Linked DNA regions of Homo sapiens: region 2 is linked to region 1. Evidence: fine-mapped expression QTL. Tissue or cell type: whole blood. Region 1 holds a variant in brackets; the other region holds the start of a gene. All regions are shown on one strand. Distances are between the middles of the regions.

Evidence for each region. PIP is the estimated chance that this variant, and not a neighbour inherited with it, causes the effect.
Region 2: it holds the start of PRAM1, and the variant in region 1 is fine-mapped to the expression of PRAM1 in whole blood (INTERVAL, PIP above 0.99).

Annotation. Positions count from the first base shown.
Region 1 is chr19:8,438,874-8,446,705 of GRCh38, forward strand. It overlaps HNRNPM (heterogeneous nuclear ribonucleoprotein M), which reads left to right and starts at 6,102. Exons shown (of 16, transcript NM_005968.5): 1 at 6,102-6,238. The coding sequence starts at 6,126. It overlaps MARCHF2 (membrane associated ring-CH-type finger 2), which reads left to right. Exons shown (of 5, transcript NM_001005415.2): 5 at 1-144. RefSeq lists silencers at 2,992-3,286, 5,861-6,140, 6,381-6,610. The variant A/C (reference allele first, on the strand shown) is at 4,174.
Region 2 is chr19:8,498,767-8,505,674 of GRCh38, forward strand. PRAM1 (PML-RARA regulated adaptor molecule 1) reads right to left here and starts at 3,874. Exons shown (of 10, transcript NM_032152.5): 1 at 3,799-3,874; 2 at 1-1,014. The coding sequence starts at 3,825. RefSeq lists an enhancer at 1-429.

The sequences.
Region 1 (7,832 bases):
AAGCTGGAACATTCCAGCAAGCTTCTTGCGCTTCTCTGCACCCGGCAGGCCCACTTTCCTGGCACCCTCGACTTTATATAAAAGTTGCACTGCGTTTCAAAAACCCACCCCTGAATGAATAAAAGGAGCCCTGGCTGGACAAAATGGACTTGTCAGTTATGTTTCTCAAAGGAGGCCTCCCAGGGAGGGACCACATGGAGGTAAAAAAATAACACTGGCGGCCAGCCAGGTGTAGTGACTCACTCCTGTAATCCCAGCACTTTGGGAGGCTGAGGTGGGTGGATCACAAGGTCAAGAGATCGAGACCATCCTGGCTAACATGGTGAAACCCTGTCTCTACTAAAAATATAAAAATTACTTGGGCATGGTGGTGCGCGCCGGTAATCCCAGGTGCTACACAGGAAGCTGATGCAGGAGAATCGCTTGCACCTGGGAGGTGGAGGTTGCAGTGAGCTGAGATGGCGTCACTGCACTCCAACCTGGCGACAGAGAGAGACTCCATCTCCAAAACAAAACAAAACAAAACAACAACAAAAAACACTGGTTGGCCAGGCACAGTGGCTCATGCATGGAATTCCAGCACTTTGGGAGGCTGAGGTGGGCGGATCACAAGGTCAGGAGTTCGAGACCAGCCTAGCCAATATGGTTAAATCTCGTCTCTACTAAAAATACAACATGAGCCAGGCGTGGTGGCAGATACCTGTAGTCCCAGCTACTCGGGAGGCTGAGGCAGGAGAATCGCTTGAACCCGGGAGGCAGGGGTTGCCGTGAGCCAAGATCGCACCATTGCACTCTAGCCTGGGTGAGACAGCGAGACTCTGTCTCAAAAAAAATAAAATAAAATAAAAAACAATAAAAACCACTGGCTTGTTTTGAGGGATCTGTTCTGAAGCCCATGGGAAGAAGCAAAGGCTCAGTCTTCAAGTAAAAATCAGGTAGCAGGGTTATAAAAATGATTTTTAAAATATACATACGGGCTGGGCATGGTGGCTCATGCCTGTAATCACACTTTGAGAGGCCGAGATGGGTGGATCACCTGAGGTCAGGAGTTCGAGACCAGCCTGGCCAACATGGTGAAACCCCATCTCTACTAAAAATACAAAAATTAGCTGGGCGTGGAGACGCACACCTGTAATCCCAGCTACTCGGGAGGCTGAGGCAGGAGAATGGCTTGAACCTGGGAGACAGAGGTTGCAGTTAGCTGAGATCAGTTGCACCACTGCATTTCAGACTGGGTGACATCGTGAAACTCTGTCTCAAAAAATAAAAAATAGAAAAATAAAATAGACATAAGAACAATTTCCTCTTACTTTGCATCTGCCAGTCCACAGACCATGCTGGCCTCTGTTTTTCTTTTTTTGAGATGGGGTCTTGCTCTGTCACCCAGATTGGAGTGCAGAGGCACAATCACACAGCTCACTCCAGCCTCGACCTCCTGGGCTCAGGCAATCCTGTCTCAGCCTCCCTGGCAGCTGGGACAACAGGCATGCACCACTGCGCCTAGCCACTGTTAGTTTTTAGTTAAGTGTAGAGAGTCCAGCATGGGCCAGGCCTGGTGGCTGATGCCTGTAATCCCAGCATTTTGGGAGGCTTCGGCAGGAGGATCAGTTGAGCCTAGGAGTTTGAGACCAGCCTTGGCAACATAGTGAGACCCTGTCTTTACTAAATAAATAAATATATAAATATATATATATTAGCTGGGCATGGTGGCATGCACCTGTGGTCACAGTTACTCAGGAGGCTGAGGTGGGAGGATCCCTTGAATCCAGGAGTTCCAGGCTGCAGTGAGCTATAATTATACTTCTGTTGTCTATTCTAGGCAACAGGGCAAGACCCTGTCTCTAAAGCAAACAAACAATTTTTTAAAAATGGTGACAATATCCACGCTGACTTAGGGTGACTATAGATTAGGCATAGTTCCGAGTCTCTCCCTCCTTTGACTGTCACTTGTTAGGGAAGAAGTGGTTATTACCTACATTTTACAGGTGAGAAGACTGAGGCCCAGGGCAGGGAAGCCTTAATCTAAGGTCTCAGAGCTGTAGGAAGTGGAGCCGGGGTGACACCAGGACTCCTTTTGGAGGAAGACTCAGGAAAGATGCAGAATACGTGTTTTTTTTTTTTTTTTTTTTTTTTTTTGAAACAGAGTCTTACTCCATCACCCAGGTTGGAGAGCAGTGGCGTGATCTTGGTGATCTTGGCTTACTGCAACCTCTGCCTCCCGGGTTCAAGTGATTCTCTCTTGCCTCAGCCTCCCAAGTAGCTGGGACCACAGGCAGCTAAGTTTTGTATTTTTAGTAGAGATGAAGTCTTGTCATGTTGACCAGGCTGGTCTCGAACTCCTGACCTCAGGTGATTCACCTACCTCGGCCCCCTAAAGTGCTGGGATTACAGGCGTGAGCCACCGAGCCTGGCCCAGAATGCAGTTAATCTAATAACAACACCTACTTCTTCAGCGCTTTCTGCCTGCCGATTCTTTTATATTTAAAGGCTCTTGGCATCTGTCTGCTTTTAAAGCTCAGGGCAACCCTGAAAGGTGAGTTCTGGTGCCTTTCTTTCTTTCTCTCTCTCTCTCTCTCTCTTTCTTTTCTTTCTTTCTTTCGACGGAGTCTCGCCCTGTTGCCCAGGCTAGAGCGCAGTGGCACTATCTCTGCTCACTGCAACCTCCACCTCCCGAGTTCAAGCAATTATCCTGTCTCAGCCTCCTGAGTAGCTGGGACTACAGGCGCCAACCATCATGCCTGGCTAATTTCTGTATTTTTAGTACAGATGGGGTTTCGCCATATTGGCCAGGCTGGTATTGAACTCCTGACCTCAAATGATCCACCTGACTCGGCCTCTCAAACTGCTAGGATTACAGGCGTGAGCCACCGTGCCCAGCCTGGTGCATTGCATTTCTTATTATCCATATTTTCAGTTAAGCAAACTGAGCCTCAGAGTGGAGGAGCTGATTGCTCAAGGTCTGTTTTCCATATGAATCCCTGCCTGGTATGTAGCTCACTCACAAAGGAAGAAAAACTTTCTGCCTGGACTGGAAGGGCAAGGAGAAGCCTGTGTGGCCATGGGAGTGGAGGAAACAGCTAAGCACAAAGGCCCAGAGGCTGGAAACTGCTTAGCCTGTAGGAAGAGCAGCAGGGAGGAACCCCAGGGCTGGAGCAGTGTGATTGAGGGGCAGGTGGCTGGAGAGATGGGCAGGGCCTCCTAGGCATGGGGTGACTGACGCACCAGTGGTCTGCAAAAACGGAGCATCACACCAGTGCGCATGAGCTCTCCTGCCCCTTGGGGGGGCCTTCCTTGCTCCTGCAGCTGAACTCCCTACACAGCCTGACACCCATCTTTCCTCAGGCCAACTTTGGCCTGTGGTGCCCCAGGAGTTGATGTACAGATGCCTCAGGACATGCCATGAGGAAGAGAGAGACGAGATGGGGTGACTCATGCCTGAAATCCCAGCACTTTAGGAGGCCAAGGCAGGAGGATTGCTTGAAGGCTGGGAGTTAGAGACCAGCCTGGCCAACATAGCAAGACCCTGTCTCTACAAAAAGAGAAAGAAACAGAGAGAGAGAGAAGGAAAAGTGTTTTCTTTGCAAATCTATTCTAATACTTTCATAGAGAAGAGTTTTAGTTTGGTGTTAACCTGTCTTTAATAATCCTCTAAGGACCAGCACAGTGGCTCACGCTTATAATCCCAGCACTGTGGGAGGCCAAGGCTGTAGGATCCCTTGAGCTCAGGAGTTCGAGACCATCCTGGGAAAAACGGCAAGACCCTATCTGTACCAAAAAATAAAAATAAAAAATTAGCCAAGTGCAGCGGCGTGCACCTACAGTCCCAGCTACTTGACAGGCTAAGCAGGGGAGGATCGCTTGAGTTCAGGAGTTCAAGGTTGCAGTGAGCTATCATTTACAAAGGTAGATTGAAATATTATTGATAGGCTGGGCACGGTGACTCACACCTGTAATCCCAGCACTTTGGGAGGCTGAGGTGGGCAGATCACCTGAGGTCAGGAGTTTGAGACTAGTTTGGCCAGCATGGCAAAACCCCATCTCTACTAAAAAATACAAAACTTAGCCAGGCGTCGTGGTGTGCACCTGTAATCCCAGATACTTGGAAAGCTGATGCAGAAGAATCGCTTGAAATCAGGAGGCGGAGGTTGCAGTGAGCTGAGATGGTGCCACTGC[A/C]CTCCAGCCTCTGTGACAGAGCAAGACTGTCTCCAAAAAAAGAAAAAAATATATTATTGATAATCGCTGCATTGAAGGCCAGGCGCAGTGGTTTACGCCTACAATCGCAGCACTTTGGGAGCCTGAGGCAGGCGGATCACGAGGTCAGGAGTTCGAGACCAGCCTGACCAATATGATGAAACCTTGTCTCTACTAAAAATACAAAAGTTAGCCGGGCGTGGTGGCATGCACCTGTAATCCCAGCTACTCGGGAGGCTGAGACAGGAGAATCGCTTGAACCCAGGAGGCGGAGGTTGCAGCGAGCCGAGATGGCGCCATTGCACTCCAGTCTGGGCAACAAGAGCGAAACTCCGTCTCAAAAAGATAATCGCTGCATCTTACTGCCCAAGTTGCCACAAGCACACGTAACATCTGATGGTGCCAATTCGACTGTCTGCACTTGGAAAATGGCACATTGGAGGCTGCACAGCACCATAAAACTGATGCCACGAATGCACACAAAAATAAGACCATACAGCATTATGCCTAGTACAGAATACACCCTGAATTCTGTCACAGTTCACTTTATGCAACATTGCAAGAGTCCTCTCGCTCTTTATTATTATTTTTAATTTTTTTGAGATGGGGTCTCACTCTGTGACCAGGCTGGAGTGCAGTGGCCCGATCTTGGCTCACTGCAACCTCCTCCTCCTGGGTTGAAGCGATTCTCCTGCCTCAGGCTCCCCAGTAGCTGGGATTATGGGCGCCTGCCACCACACCCGGCTAATTTTTGTATTTTTAGTAGAGACAGGGTTTCATCATGTTGGCCAGGATGGTCTGATCTCTTGACCTCGTGATCCACCCGCCTTGGCCTCTCAAAGTGGTAGGATTACAGGCGTGAGCTGCCGCGCCCAGCCATTAATTTTTTTTTTAATTTTGTTTTTAACTTTTAGGTTTGGGGGTAAATGTGAAGGTTTGTTAAATAGGTAAACACTTGTCATGGAGGTTTGTTGTACAGATTATTTCATCACCCAGGTATTAAGCCCAGTACTCAATACTTATCTTTTTGTTTTTTGAGATGGAGTCTCAGTCTATCTCCCAGGCTGCGGTGCAGTGGCGTGATCTCGGCTCACTGCAACCTCCGGCTCCTGGGTTCAAGCGATTCTCCTGCTTCAGCCTCCCGAGTAGCTGGGATTACAGGCGCCCGCCACCACGTCCAGCTAATTTTTTTATTTTTAGTAGAGACGCGGTTTCACCATGTTGGCCAGTCTGGTCTCGAACTCCTGACCTCAGGTGATCCGCCGCCTCGGCCTCCCATACCCAAAGTGCTGGGATTACAGGAGTGAGCCATCGCGCCTGGCCCCATTATTAGTGAATTTTAACAGTTTTCCGTTTCTTCTGGACGAACTGTTTGCAATTATAATGCGAATTACGGATAATACTCTGATATTATTCCATGCCGTTCCGTTGTTGCCTACAAAGTTCGCGCTGGAGAACCGCGCAATTGCGTTACAAAAAGAAAAAAATCACACAAAAAGACACAATGTTTTAAGAAAGTTTACGAATCGTGTGCCGGACCGCGGGTTGAACAAGCTTCATCTAAAACTTCCAGGAATCTCTAGACAGGATCATTGCTTCCCCTCTGCTCCAGCTCTGGTTACAGAAAGCTGAGAGTGACTAGGTCTAGGTGTTTGTGTGGGGTGGGGTGGGGAGATGCCTCCTCTATCGGACTCAGAGGACGCGCGCCGGGAACAGCCAGTCGGTGCCTAACGCGAGTGTATCTCGAGAGAGAAGCGATCAACAGCTGCCGGTCTGCGCCTGCGCGCGGCGGGGGCGTGGCCCGGGGCGAGTGGGGCCAAGGAGGCAGCCGGGAGCGGCGGGCGCAGGTGTTACTGGTTGCGTCGGGTCACGTGGGCGCGCAGGCGCAGCGCGGTGCAGCCCGTTCGCTCACACAAAGCCCAGACGCGGAGAAAATGGCGGCAGGGGTCGAAGCGGCGGCGGAGGTGGCGGCGACGGAGATCAAAATGGAGGAAGAGAGCGGCGCGCCCGGCGTGCCGAGCGGCAACGGGGCTCCGGGCCCTAAGGGGTGAGTATCCCACGGTCCTTTGCCACGGGTAAGGGTTCCTCTCCGCGGCCGACGCGGGCGGCGGCTCCGTTAGGTCTGTTGGCGGCCTAGCCCCGGCGCGGCCTCGGCCCCGGCTGTTCCCGTACCGCCTGCTCAGGGTAGCGGCGTCTAGGGCCGTGAGCGGGGAGCCGGGGGAGCCTCCAGAATCGTCCCCTACACCGGGCCTCGAGCCTCGCCACCCTCAGTCCCTCCAGGCCGGGGCCAACCCCGTAGTCGAGGCCTCAGGCCCAGCTGCTGCGCATGGGGGTTGATGGCGCGGGCCCGGACCGGAGAGCCTCCGAGGCCTACCCGACCGCTCCCCGGGAGGGTGACCTCGGGGGCCGGGTTTCAGCCCCCCGTCCCCTCTCCTCCCGGGGTCTGTTTTCTGATCCGTAACGTGGGGGGAGGAGAGAGGGTGCGCGCCCGGGAGGCCTCGCGCGCAGTCAGCCCGAGTCAACGGTAACCGAGCGAGGGAAGCGTCAGGAAGGGCCGCGAAGCCGGGTCGGGGGGCTCCCCTCCTGCCCCGCCCCTTAGTCCCCGCGCGCCGACCGCGCTCCGCGGGAAGTGCCTCCCTCGGAACCGCCCCTCGCCCCACGCTCTGGCCCTGGCTCAAGTCCCTCGCCGTTTCCCGCTCCTCCTCCCCGGGTGCGCCGCAGGTATTAGTGGAGAGATGGGATCTGCTGCTTAGCGTTCACCCTCGGAAGCAGACAGATACGAAGTCGGGGGAGGAATCCCCTTTTTCCCGTGTTTCGGGGAAGCTGTTCTGTCAGGAGGCGGGTTCATTTACTTCCAGACTTCATCAGCTTTTCGAGTCCTGCTTGGGGCTCTTTGACTCCTTGGCTTTTAAAAGTTTCTTTAAAGGAGGAAGCATCGACTTGTGCCCCGGTGAAACTCATTCATTCTGATTACAGACACTTAAGAGAGACAGAGAGGTTTTGGCTCCAAGATCAGCGGCCGGGAAGGAAGGGGAAGCCTGGGTACACATTGAATTTCCCAGACATTTATTTCATTGTGGTAAAATAGACATAACGTAGACTTTGCCATTTTAACCATTTTTTAAGCGTATAATTCAGTGGCATTGAGTATACTGACTCAGTGTGCTGTAACCGTCACTGCTTCATGTCCAGAACTTTTTCATCATCGGAAACAGAAAGTGTAGCTATTAAATACTAACTCCCTCCGTTTTCTTTCCTTTCTGTCTGTGACTTTGCCTTCCTCATATTGTAATGTGTGAAGCTTAGTTTATGGAGATTAAAAGTGAATGCGGTTGAGCACTTATATATTTAATTTTTTTCTTTGAGACAGGGTCTCCCTCTGTTACCCAAGCTGGGATGCAGTGGCACGATCACAGATCACTGCAGCCTCGAACTCCTGGGCTCAATCGATCCTTCCATCTCAGCCTCCTGAGTAGCTGGGATCACAGGCGCGGCACCACCATGCCCGGCTAATTTTTTGAAGAGAGGAGGTCTCCGGGTGTTGCCCAGGCTGGTCTGAAACTCCTGGGTTCAAGCCATCCTCCTGCCTAGGCCTTCCAAAGTGCTGAAGTTACAGGCATGAGCTACTGCGCCCTGCCTAG
Region 2 (6,908 bases), 59 kb after region 1:
CTGCAGCAGCTTCCTGGGGAGTGAGTTGAACTCGGGCTCTGAGGAGGTCCTGGGGAGGCCGCCCAGCTCGGGCTGCGGGGGCTTCTTGGAGAGCGCTTTGAATTCGGCCGGCCGCGGCCTCTTGGGAAGCACGCTGACTTCGGGCTCTGAGGAGGTCCTGGTGAGGTCCCCAAGCTCAGGCTGCGGAGGCTTCTTGGGAAAGTCACTCAGCGGAGGCTGGGAGGCCTTTTTGGGAAAGGCGCTGGAGTCGCGCTTCGGCTCGCTGGACTGAGGCTTCCAGAGGGGAGTCTGAGCGGCCTCGCTGAACTCAGGCTGCGGCACGGACTTCTTAGGGAGGCCACCGACCTGAGGCTGCGGAGGCTTTTTGGGGTACACGTTGAACTCAGGCTGCGCAGGCTTCTTGGGAAAGGTACTCAACTCAGGCTGCGGGGACCTCGGGGTAGCCTCACCGGCCTCGGGTTGCCAGAGCTTCCTGGGGAATGCGCCGGATTTGGGTTCGGAGGGGGGTCTGGCGGGGTGACTGAGTTCGTCGGGCTGCAGGGGTTTCCGGGCCGGCGCACCAGGCTCCGGCAGCGAGGCCTTCAAAGGGGCCTCACCGACCTCAGGCTGCAGGGGCTTCCTTGGAAACGGAGTGGCCCCCAGCTGTGGGAACTTCTTGGAGAGGTCACTCAACTCCAGTTTGGACGGCTTCTTGGGGAGGTCAGTGACCTCAGGCGGCGGGGGCTTCTTGGGGAGGTCAGTGACCTCAGGCGGCGGGGGCTTCTTGGGGAGGTCAGTGACCTCAGGCGGCGGGGGCTTCTTGGGGAGGTCAGTGACCTCAGGCGGCGGGGGCTTCAAGGACACTGCACCAAACTCAGGCAGCGGGGCCTTCTTGGGGTGCTCGCTTAGCTCAGGCTGGGAGAACTTCTTCAGTTTACCAAACTCAGGCTTCGGAGGTTTTTTGGGCAGGTCGCTGGGCTCCGGCTGAGAGGCCTGGAACTTTGCTTTGATGCTCCGGAAGTCCTGATGGCTCTCCTAGGAGACGCAGAGCCAATGAGGCAGGGGCTCAAACACACAGAAGGGGCATGGAAGGATGGGCCTGGGGACCCTCAGGCACAGCCCACAACCACCACCCCTGCGCCCAGGCCCGGTCAGCCCTCAGCTCTTTCCCAGGAGCCCCCATGGATCCTAGGATCCTGGGACCGACACCCCTCCCTACTTCTCCATTTAGTGCTGATTCCACACCCAACCTCCTCTAGCAGCACTGGAGATCCCGACATCCCTCCTGCAGCCTCCAGTCCCACTGCCCTCCCCCCATGGGTGGTACCCCACCCCCCCAGCATCCTTGACCCCCTCATTCTTTCACCCCTCCCACTGCATGTCTCCAGTCTCGTTCCATTGCCCAGGCTGGAGAGCAGTGGTGCAATCATAGCTCACTGCAGCTTGCAACTCCTGGGCTCCAATGATTCCCCCGACCTCGGCCTCCCCAGTAGCTGGGATTACAGGCTTGAGCCGCCGCGCCCAGGCCCCCAGTCCCTTCTGTGCTAATTTCAAAACACATCCGGAATCCAACCACTTCTCACTGCCTTCACCACTGTCACCCCAGGAGGTAGTGGGAGGCAGTGTCTGCCCTCCCCCAACCAATTGCCTGGATTACTCTAACAAGCCCTTCCCTGGGCCTCTGCCTACCCCCTTCCCTGGTCAGTTCCCCCCATGGCAGCTGGAGGGAGAAGCCTGTTGAACCCTGAGTCTGTTTGTGTCCCTCTGCTCAAAACTCGGCAATGCTTCCTCATGTCCCCACAGTTCAAGCTAAATGCCTCATAAAAGCCTGGGCGAACCAGCCTCCCTACCCAGCCACCTTCTCCTCCCTGCACCCTGAACACTTCCCTCCGACCTCGGGGCCTCTGCCCTGTCCCTGACCCAGGACATGTCTCTGCACCACCTGGGTCTCTCCTTTTCCTCCTCCCAGCCTCTGTTCTCATATTTTCTTATTAGAGAGGCCATCCAAGGCCACCCTATTTGTTTATTTTTATTTTTTGAGATGGAGTCTTGCTCTGTCACCCAGACTGGAGTGCAATGGCGCGATCTCGGCTCACTGCAATCTCCACTTCCCAGGTTCAAATGATTCTCGTGCCTCAGCCGCCCAAGTAGCTGGGATTACAGGCACTCGCCACCACACCTGGCTAATTTTTGTATTTTAACTAGAGACAGGGTTTCACCACGTTGGCCAGGCTGGTCTCAAACTCACGACCTCAGGTGATCCACCCTCCACCCGCCTCAGCCTCCCAAAGTGCTGGGATTACAGGTGTGAGCCACCGTGCCCAACCTAGACCACCCTATTTTTCTTTCTTTCTTTTTTTTTTTTTTTTTTGAGACGGAGTCTCACTCTGTCACCCAGGTTGGAATGCAGTGGTGGAATCTCGCCATACTGCAACCTCCGCCTCCTGGGTTCAAGCGATTCTCAGCCTCCTGAGTAGCTGGGATCACAGGTGTCTGCCACGACGCCTGGCTAATTTTTTTTGTATTTTTAATGGAAACAGGGTTTTACCATGTTGGCCAGGCTGGTCTCGAACTCCTGACCTCAAGTGATCCACCCACCTCGGCCTCCCAAAGTGCATGAGCCATCACGCCTGGCCTAGACCACCCTATTTTAAATGGATCACCCCATCCCACTACTGCCCTGCATTCAGCATGCATGATTTTCTCCATCGTACCCACCCCTACGTATTATACTATTTTACATTGTTTTTAATGTGTCTTGATTTTTTTTTTTTTTTTTTTTTGTCTCTCTACACCACAACTTCCCTCAGTTCCTCAGCCTCTGCAAGGCAGAGACTTGGCTCATTCATTGCTGTCTTCCCAGGGCCTGGAACATGGTAGGTGCTCAGTAAATATTTGCTGAAATAAACAATATTCAGGCAGCACAAAGACAGCCATGTACTCAGCCTGACCATCAGGAAAACACAGAGATGCCTGGAGACGGCCATGCGGTCCCTCTCACACCGTCTCTGACATGCGGGCTGATGGTCAGGAATGCTCACAGTTGACAGTGCCTGAGAGGATTGGTGCAGACACCGTGGGCACAGGCGCTGTCTCCTGCATACCCAGCTGTCCCAGCTGCCCTCCTAGCTGGCCCTGCAACCACTCCTCACAGAGGTAGGCAGATTCACAAGAAGGCCAGGCCTCCTTAGTCCTACAAACGCCCCTTTCACCTGTGGTCAAGGAGATTGGGGGAGGGAAAGGGCAGAAACGTGTGGCCTTTGCTTCCTGCGTGTGCCTCACTTTCCCCATCCAGAGGACCAGAGACCAGGATTGCTCCTTGGAAAGGCAGCAATTCCCACCTGGGGCCTGAAGTGCCCCTGTCAAAGCCCCGAGTGGTTTGAAGGAAGTGCTCCCGGGCGACCACAGGGCTAGATAAGTCAGGGTTAGCAGGTCACAACTTGGGTGACTGGACGGGGGAGGGTCATGACCCACTTTGTCACCCCGCAGGAAAGCACTGCTCTCACCCCAGCAGCCCGTTCCCACATGGCTGCTCATGTTGACCTGGGGAGACGGGAGTTGTCCCCCCGGGGAGTCCCATCTGTCCCCCTCGCAGTCCCAACCTGAGCGTGAACCCCCAGGAGCCCGCGCTGTCCTGGGGTGTGCCTGGTGGCCGCCTACCTCGGGTCCTTTTTGCCGACCCTTCCCGTTTCCCAGATGTCTTTCGCAGCCACCCCCCGCCCCCCCGCCCGCCCCTCCACAGGTGGATCCTATCCTTCTGGGAACATCTGTGTCCCTTGCTTCCCAGCCAGTGAGGCACAGGCCTCTTCCAGCACTCACCATGGCTGCAGGCAGGTGATGGGCCATGGGATGAGTGGGACCCGAGCTGGGGCCGCTGCCTTCAGGAAGTGACTGTGGCTTCTGCTCCACGGTCAGCACACAGGGTGGGGGCTGCTAGAGGTGGGGCGGGGGAGGGCAGAGGAGGAAGGGAAGGAGGTGGGGAGGCTCCAGTCCGTCTCCAGATCCTGCCAGCCACTTCTTTTTTTTTGAGACTGAGTCTTGCTCTGTCGCCCAGGCTGGAGTGCCATGGTGCCATCTCGGCTCACTGCAACCTCTGCCTCCCGGGTTCAGGCAATTCTTTTGCATCAACCTCCTGAGTAGCTGGGATTACAGGCGCGCACCACCGCTCCTGGCTACTTTTCGTATCTTTAGTAGAGAAGGGGTTTCACCATGTTGGGCAGGCTGGTCTCAAACTCCTGACCTCAAGGGATCGGTCCGCCTCGGCCTACCAAAGTGCTGGGATTACAGGTGTGAGCCACTGCCCCGGCCCCTGCTGGGCACTTCTATTTCGCTTGAATTCCTGTCCTGCCTGCTACTGTCCCAAGCTTGGGGCACTGGTTGCCCGCATGTTCCTAACATGGTCACTAGTTTCTTTCTTTTTTTTTTTTTTTTTTTTTTTTTTGAGACGGGGTATCACTTTGTTGCCCAGGCTGGAGTGTAGTGGCGCAATCTCGACTCACTGCAACCTCCGCCTCCCAGGTTCAAGCGATTGTCCTGCCTCAGTCTCCTGAGTAGCTGGAATTACATGCATGTGCCACCACTGCCGGCTAATTTTTTGTATTTTTAGTAGAGACGGGGTTTCACCATGTTGGTCAGGCTGGTCTCAAACTCCCAACCTCAGATGATCTGCCCGCCTCGGCCTCCCAAAGTGCTGGGACTACAGGCGTGAGCAACCACGCCTGGCCAACTAGTTTCTTACTCTCTATAGTCCCCATCATTCCTACTACTTTGGTGTCCCCATCTCTGGACTCCAGGGAGGACTCCATGCCAGGCCCTGGTGACCTCCTGGGCTAGAGAGCCACAGGATGGGGAGATCTCAGCAGATCAGGGGTACGGACAGCTCTGGGGTTTAGGAGGCTCCTGGGGAGGCCCAGAGGCCCAGGACGTGGGGGCCCATGTGACCGGGTGAGGCCTCTGCTGTCTGCCCTGGTTGGCTCATCCGCCTTCCTCATTTCAACACTTCCATGAAATCCAATTCCCGGCTCTGAGCAGGACTCACTTGTTCTGGGGCAGATATCACAGGCCATGGATGTCCCAGGCTGCCGCCCTGGGCAGAAAGCTTAGCTGGTACAGCAGATTTGGGGGTCGGTGGGTGAGTGGTGTCAAAGGCCTTGCACCTGGGCCACGCACGGTGGCTCACGCCTGTAATCCTAACACTTTGGGAGGCTGAGGCAGGAGGATCACTTGAGCCCAGGAGTTCAAGACCAGCTTGGGCAATGTAGCAAGACTCCATCTCTACAAAAAATATAAAATTAGCCAGGTGTGATGGTGCACGCCTGTGGTCCCAGCTGCTTGGGAGGCTGGGGTGGGAGAATCACTTGAACCCTGAAGGCGGAGGTTGCAGAGTCAAGATCACGCCACTGTACTCCATGCTGGGTGACAGAGAGAGACTCCATCTCAAAAAAAAAAAAAAAAAAAGGCTTTGCAGTTCTGGAGGAGTGAGGGGGTCTGAGGACCCGAGGACACACCAGATTCCCAGAGGTTAGAGGTAGTAGAGAGAAGAGGAACCAGGAGACAGAGACAGGGGCCAAGAGGGGGTGAAGGCAGTCACTTGTGGTGCCGAGGACTGGCCAGATAAGGACAAGCCCTGACCACAGAGCTCAGCCCACAGGAGATCAGTAATCTCCGTCACGGTAGACAAAGGGAGAAAACACCTGCTAAGAGAGTAGAGAGCCCTGGTTTTCAGTTTGAGCACATGTTGGAATTGCCTGAACAGTTAAAAAAAAAAAAAAAAGAACCGGCGGTTGGGCAGTGTGGCTCACGCCTGTAATCCCAGCACTTTGGGAGGCTGAGTCGGGTGGATCACCTGAGGTTGATCACCTGAGGTTGGGAGTTCAAGACCAGCCTGGGCAACATGGAGAAACCCCATCTCTACTAAAAATACAAAAATTAGCTCGGCGTGGTGGCGCATGCCTGTAATCTTGGCTACTTGGGAGGCTGAGGCAGGAGAATTGCTTGAACCCAGGAGGCGGAGGTTGCAGTGAGACGAGATGGCTCCACTGCACTCCAGTCTGGGTGACAGAGCAAAACTCCATCTAAAAAAAAACAAAACAAAAAACAGAACCTACAAGAAACTCTGACTTAATCAGTCTGGGGTGTGGCCCGAGCAAGTATTTTTAAAACATTTTAAAATTTTTTTTTTGAGACAAAGTCTTGCTCTGTCTCCCAGGCTGCCTCCCGGCTTCAAGTAGCTGGGATTACAGGTGCCTGCCAACATGCCCGGCTAATTTTCTGGATTTTTAGCAGAGCTGGGGTGTCACCATTGGCCAGGCTGGTCTCAAACTCCTGACCTCAAGCAATCTACCCACGTGGGCCTCCCAAAGTGCTGGGATTACAGGCCTTAGTCACTGCGCCTGGCCTGCCTGTTTTCACGCCTCCTTTAAGAGCACAGACATCAGGATTCTGCCATCTCTGTTGTGCCTTTGCATCCTGTCCTGGGGCACAGTTCCCAGATGTGGGTTGCCCTCCCAAAAAGGAGTCTCGGGAGGACAGTATGGGCTCTCTGTGGGTCTCCAGAACCTTGGCAAGTGAAGGAAAGAATGAAAGAAAGAACAAGTGGCCAGGCGCGGTGGCTGACGCCTGTAATCCCAGAAGTTTGGGAGGCCAGGCGGGCGTATCACCTGAGGTCAGGAGTTCGAGAGCAGCCTGGCCAACATGATGAAACCCTGTCTCTACTAAAAATACTGTTTGTGCACACCTGTAATCCCAGGTACCTGGGAGGCTGAGGCGGGAGAATCGCTTGAACCCGGGAGGCGGAGGTTGCAGTGAGCTGAGATTGCGCCATTGCACTCCAACCTGGGTGACAAGGCGAGACACCGTCTCAAAAAAAAAAAAATTAAATTAAATAATAAAAATAAGTAAATAAATAAATCAAGCAATGCTTGGCCACA